Linked DNA regions of Homo sapiens: region 2 is linked to region 1. The links come from fine-mapping of genetic effects on gene expression. A gene starts in region 1. The other region holds a variant in brackets. All regions are shown on one strand. Distances are from middle to middle. Region 1 holds the start of LINC02928 (long intergenic non-protein coding RNA 2928). Region 2 overlaps CLOCK (clock circadian regulator).

Region 1 (2,921 bases):
GGCACTTTACTAGTGCTGGGGATATATCTGCAAACAAAGCAATAAAAACAAACCCAAAAATTTTTGCCCTCATGTAGCTCACATTACATTGAGGAAACACAGGCAAAAAATAATGTACCTAAGTGTGTTGGAGGCCGAAAGATTGAGGGTAGTGATCAACTCAGTATACCACTGGAGGCTATATGAGTAAACAGCAAACTGTTCTCATAAACGCAGAATGTTGGCAAACTGACAAACTGCGTCTGCCACCAGAAGGAATGCTGAGGGCAGTCACGCCCCAAGCGCAGTGTTTCTTGTGATTAGGTACTTCTGAAGCCTGTTAGTAGTAATATGAACCTGTGATCGATTAAGCAGCTGACCAATCGTTACCTCCTCCTCCCTGCTCTTTCTACCCAATAAATAAGAAAGGCTGTGGAAACTCGGGGGCTGCCTTTGCTCACTAGAAGCGGGGAGTTCTCTTCTTCTTTCCTGATTCCCCTTCCTTTAAAATAGTTTCTTTTGTCTTAAGTTTACATTTCTGCGTCCGTCCCTTCCTTCAGTCTTGTAATGACGGTCTCAAGCAGTAGCAGTGGCAGTCAGTCACATAAGTGAAAAAGTACATTGTAGAGGTTTATTTCTACAGAACAAACCACCTCAAAACCAGGTGACTCAAAACAATAAGTATTTATTATTGCTCACCAGAGCAAAGGGAAAGGAAAATGGAAATGTGTGTATGATAGAGAGAGAACGAGGAAGAGAGAAGGAGAGGTACAAGGGGGTTGGGTTGCAATTTTAAATAAGGGGATCACCTTATTGAGAGGGCAGCTGTGGTATGCAGCCTCTTTGATGGTCCCCAATAGTCTGAATTTCCTGGACTTCCTTGAGTATCCTCTTTCTTTGAGTATAAGGCTGGACCTAGTAACTCCTTTCTAACAAAGAGAATATGGCAAAAGTGACAAGACAAAATTTCCAAGATTAAGTTATAATGAGATTGTCTTCCTTTGTGGATGCCCTTGCTTGCTTGCTCTGATGGAAGCTGGGTACCACGTTGTGAGATGCTTTATGGAGAAGTCCTTCCATAGAGGCAAGGAACTGAAGGAGGCCCCAGCCAATGAGGGGCCTTTTTTTTTTCTTCTTTTTCTTTCTTTCTTTTTTTTTTTTTTTTTTTTTTGAGACAGGGTCTCCCTCTGTTACGCAGGCGGGAGTGCAGTGGCACAATCTTGGCTCACTGCAACCTCTACCTCCTGGGCTCAAGAGATCCTCCCACCTCAGCCTCCCAAGTAGTTGGGACTACAGGTGCAAGCAACCACACCCGACTAATTTTTGTATTTTTTGTAGAGATGGGGTTTTGCCATGTTGCCCAGGCTGGTCTTGAACTCCTGAGCTCAGGCAATCCACCTGCCTTGGTCTCCGAAAGTGCTGAAATTACAGGTGTGAGCCACTGTGCCTGGCCTGGAACTAGGGCCTTTAGTTCAAGAGCCCATGGGGAACTGAATCCTGCTAACAACCATGTGAGTGCGCTTGAAGGTGGGTCCTCCCTCAGTAGAGCTTAAAGATGAGACAACAGCCCTGGGGACATCTTGACTGCAGAGAATCCTTGAGGCAGAGGCACCCAGCTAAGTTGTATCTGGAATTCTGACCCCAGAAACAATGAGATAATAGATGTTTGTTTTTAGCTCCTAAGACTTGGAGTACTTTGTTACACAGCAGTAAATAACTAATACAGTGATGTTTGAACAAAGACTTGAAGAAGCTGAGTGAGAAGGCCATGCAGATATCTTGGAGAAGTGCATTCCAGGCAGAGGAAAAGCCAGTGCAGAGACACTGAAGCAGGGCATGACTGATGTGTATAAGGAGCATCATATACATGATCATCTACAGTCCACTGAGGAGAATAGCAGACGAGGTAATGTGTGTGACTGGGAGCCACAACATACTGGGCCTAGTGGGTTAGTAGAAGAACTTCAGCCTTACTCCAAGAGAAATTGGCAGCTGTGTTGCAGGGTTTGGGACAGTAGTGGCATGATCTCATTTATGTTTGTGAAAGATCACTCTAGCTTGTGTTGAGAATTGTCTGTAAGGTATAAGGGGGAAAGCAGGGAGCTCACTTAGTCAGTTGCAATAATCTAGGCAAAAAATGAATGAAAATCACGATGGCAGTTTGTAGAAAGATGATAACAGAGGTAGATTCTGGACATGCTCTAACTGTAGACCCACTGATTTCTGGATTGTGAAAGAAAAAGAAGAGTCAAGGAAGACTCCATGGCTTTTGGTTTGAGTAAGTGAAAAAACAGGAAGAATGTAGGTGGATCAGGTGTGGGGAAGAGGAAAATCAGAAATTTACCTTTAATCATGTCAAACTTGAGAACAGCTAGTGCTTTTCAAGTCAAGTAGAGCTGTTAAGTAGGCAACTAGATATATGAGTCTAGAGGTCAGGGTGATGTCTGGGCTGAATATATAAATTTAGAAGTTGTCAGCATATAAATAGTATTTAAAGTTATGAGACTGGATGAGATCACCAAGTATTGATAAAGAAAGGGACCCAGGACTGAGAACTGGGGCAATTCAACATTCAGACATCAGGAAACAGAAGAGATCAGCAGAGGAACCTGGGAAGGAACAGCCAGGGAGGTAGGAGGAAAATCCACAGTGTAGTGTCTCAGAACCAATTAAAGAATGCATCTCAAATGAGGTAACCAACTGCTACCATGCTGGGATGAACACTGAGAAACAACTGTCGGGTTTAGCAGCATGGTCGTTGGAGACCTTTTCAAGAGCAGTTTAGTAAAGTTCTGAGAGCTAAAAAAAATAAAATAAAAATAAAAAAAGTGACTATAGGGTATTTAGCGGTGGGAGGGAAAGGACTGATGTTAGTAAGAATAGACTAATCTTTCTAGGAGCTTTGCTGCCAAAGAATCAGCGAAATCAGGTGGTATCTGGTG
Region 2 (2,921 bases), 100 kb before region 1:
CAGGTATCATAAAATGATTGTTTTATAAATAATCAAGTTTTTCTCAATAGCTGTTTGTTTACTGGTTACTGCTTCACATAGAATAGCGTCTTTATTCATTTAGTACATATATTTATAATAACCATGTAAGTTAACAATCACTGGAAGTATTAGATTGAATAAAACTTGTGATTTGAATGCAGTTTTTCTTATTGGCATTTTCATAAAAACATGTTTGTCAAATGTATGATTTGTAAAATTTTCTTTAGTAATAAACTGAGCTGAAAAATTATTGCCCAAATTAACTGTATATTGGTAACCTGGAAGATATTTGTTACCATCTATGTTGATAGAAGTACATGCTGTGTCATGTCTAAATTAACATTGTATTAAACTACTTGTGTAATTAAATGGATTGTTTAAAAAATGCATATTTTTCATTTCATCAGAGTATCTAGAAACAAATCTGAAAAGAAACGTAGAGATCAATTTAATGTTCTCATTAAAGAACTGGGATCCATGCTTCCTGGTAATGCTAGAAAGATGGACAAATCTACTGTTCTGCAGAAAAGCATTGATTTTTTACGAAAACATAAAGGTAAATTTTTAACTCTGTAAAATGGAACAGACTCTCAAAGCATTAGTTAGAATCTTGGCAGAGATGCTTAAGATTGGATGCTTCCTTGGCTTTTTTAAGAGAGAGAAATCAATTGCATTTTAAAAGGTTTCCTAATATGTTCATTCTTTCATTCAACAAACATTTATTCCGTGCCTACTACATGCTAAATCCTCATGATGCAGGGTAACAGTCCTGGATTTGAAGTTAAGTCAAGCCAGGGCAGACAAACATGTAAGCACATAATTACAAATGTGAGTAGTGCTTGTAAACTGTTTGCAGCAAAAACACAGGAAAGAGTATGTCAGGGAGACTTTTAAAATAGTTGATTTTTCAACTGAGTCTTTTAGATTAAGGAAGACAGCATGTCACACAAAGGGAATATGTGCAAAAGCAGAGAGGCAGGGAGACTTCATTGTCACTGAAGCATGTTTGTGTTGGAAAATTATGGGTGTATTTGAAAGAAAGGAAAAAGCTGGATAGTATAAAGTTCTTATGTGTCATTTTAAAAGGTTTCAATGTATATCTAGTAAATCAACACTATAAAATAAAGTATTTGTTAATAGAAGAAAATCATCTTGACAAATGAGTCATGGAAAGAAAATTTAAAGAATAT[T/C]AAGTATTTTGGTAACAGATAATAATAGATTTAAAAAAAACCTGTAAAAGGAAATTTCCTTTTTCAAATGCAAATGAAACTGTAAAACTCAGGACAGTTAGTAATTAGTGCCTCTGTTTTACTTCTGCCTAGCTCAGTTGGTAATGCCTTACAGGACTGGTTTATGCTCCACCACTCGTTGAAAGTGTTTTTGTTAATTTCACTAATGACATTACCTTCCTATCCCTCAATAAAGCAATAGCTTTTTCTTATACCGCATCTTCTTCTGCATCTGTACAGCACTGGAAATTTTTATCCCTCCTCCCTTGGCTTCCCTTATATTGTACTTTCTCCTCCCCTTTTCTAACTGAAACTAACTTCTTTCCTCTCTTTCTACCCTCTAAATGTGACATTCCTAAGTCTTATCCTTGTTCTCTTGCTTTCTGTACACTCTTTCTCTTGCTTATCTCATTCCATAGCTTCAGCTATTGTGTCTCTATTAACCTACCAGATTTCTATTTTTAGATGCAAACATTTTAGCCATGTATTTCCAGATAACTTCTAGATCTTTCTTTTGCATGTCCTCAAACTCAGTGCATCTAAAATTGAATTTATTTTCATTTTGTCAAGTTACCTCTTTCTCTTAACTTGCCTTTTTTCATTTTTATACCACCATCCTTTTAGTCACCTAAGACTTAAACCTGAAAAAATTTTAGGATTTTTTTTCAGCTTCCTTAGCACCATATCACAGTTGCCAAATTCTGTTGATTCTTTCGTAAATGTGTCAATATTTATTGCCACCACTATTATTACATTTTACCTCTACAGATAGTATCTCACTAACCTCAGTGCCTATTGTTAAATGGCACACTCATTGAAACCAGTCCAAAGATACTAGGAGTTCAATAAATGGTTGTTGAATGAAATGAAATGCATATATTTCCCCGTCAATAGAGGATGAATTGTGGCATTAGGTAATTTTTTTTTTCAAAATCAGATACATAATTCTCACAAAAATAGTATTTCTGTTAAGGTAAAAGGATTTTATATATGTATCATCCTAAAATAGGCCTATGTTTAATGAAACTTGATTGGATTTGTTTGTGGATTTAAATCCTTTTCCCAAATGTATATAATTGATGTGAATTTGAAAAACACAACTGTATTCCGCACATTTAGTAGCTCTACTTCTTAGTTACTCTTCATATTCCACTACAGGCATTTCTAATATGCTAACTTTTGATGAGGGACAGTATGCTGTATTTCTCTATCTGATGATAAAATCAGAATTTAGTTTATACTTCTTACTACAAATTAGAGTATATTTTGTAGAATATAGTCTATGACATAGATTTTTATTCTGCCTGCTTGTTTTAATATGTCTACATTAAAAAATAGAAAAACATTTGTTACTAGGTTTCATCATTTATGAATAGCTTTTTCATAACTAAATCTATTAGAAGTATGTAGTGAAATAAAATGGTAATAATTGTGACAAACATATGTCCCACAGCAGGGATCTCCAAATTTTTCACCATCTCTCTACTGTTGTACAAGGAGGACACTAAGAAAAATCACTGTGGGAATATTACTGTAGTAAAGTTTTTGCATAAAATATTAATTTAGTCTCTTTGATTAATTAAGATAGAGCACTTAATGTTGGGAAGAAGCTTTTTGCCCAGCAGTAGGCAGGCCTAAGGCATTCTTTGTTGAAAGCAAACCTAGTGACCT

What was found. PIP is the estimated chance that this variant, and not a neighbour inherited with it, causes the effect.
Region 2: its variant is fine-mapped to the expression of LINC02928 in whole blood (TOPMed, PIP above 0.99).

Annotation. Positions count from the first base shown.
Region 1 is chr4:55,376,571-55,379,491 of GRCh38, reverse strand. It overlaps LINC02928 (long intergenic non-protein coding RNA 2928), which reads right to left and starts at 1,698. Exons shown (of 3, transcript XR_941060.4): 1 at 789-1,698. It overlaps SRD5A3-AS1 (SRD5A3 antisense RNA 1), which reads left to right. Exons shown (of 4, transcript NR_037969.1): 2 at 1,722-1,885.
Region 2 is chr4:55,476,471-55,479,391 of GRCh38, reverse strand. It overlaps CLOCK (clock circadian regulator), which reads left to right. Exons shown (of 23, transcript NM_004898.4): 6 at 429-577. Among named protein-coding and RNA genes, the nearest start is that of CLOCK, 69 kb to the left of the region's middle. The variant T/C (reference allele first, on the strand shown) is at 1,212.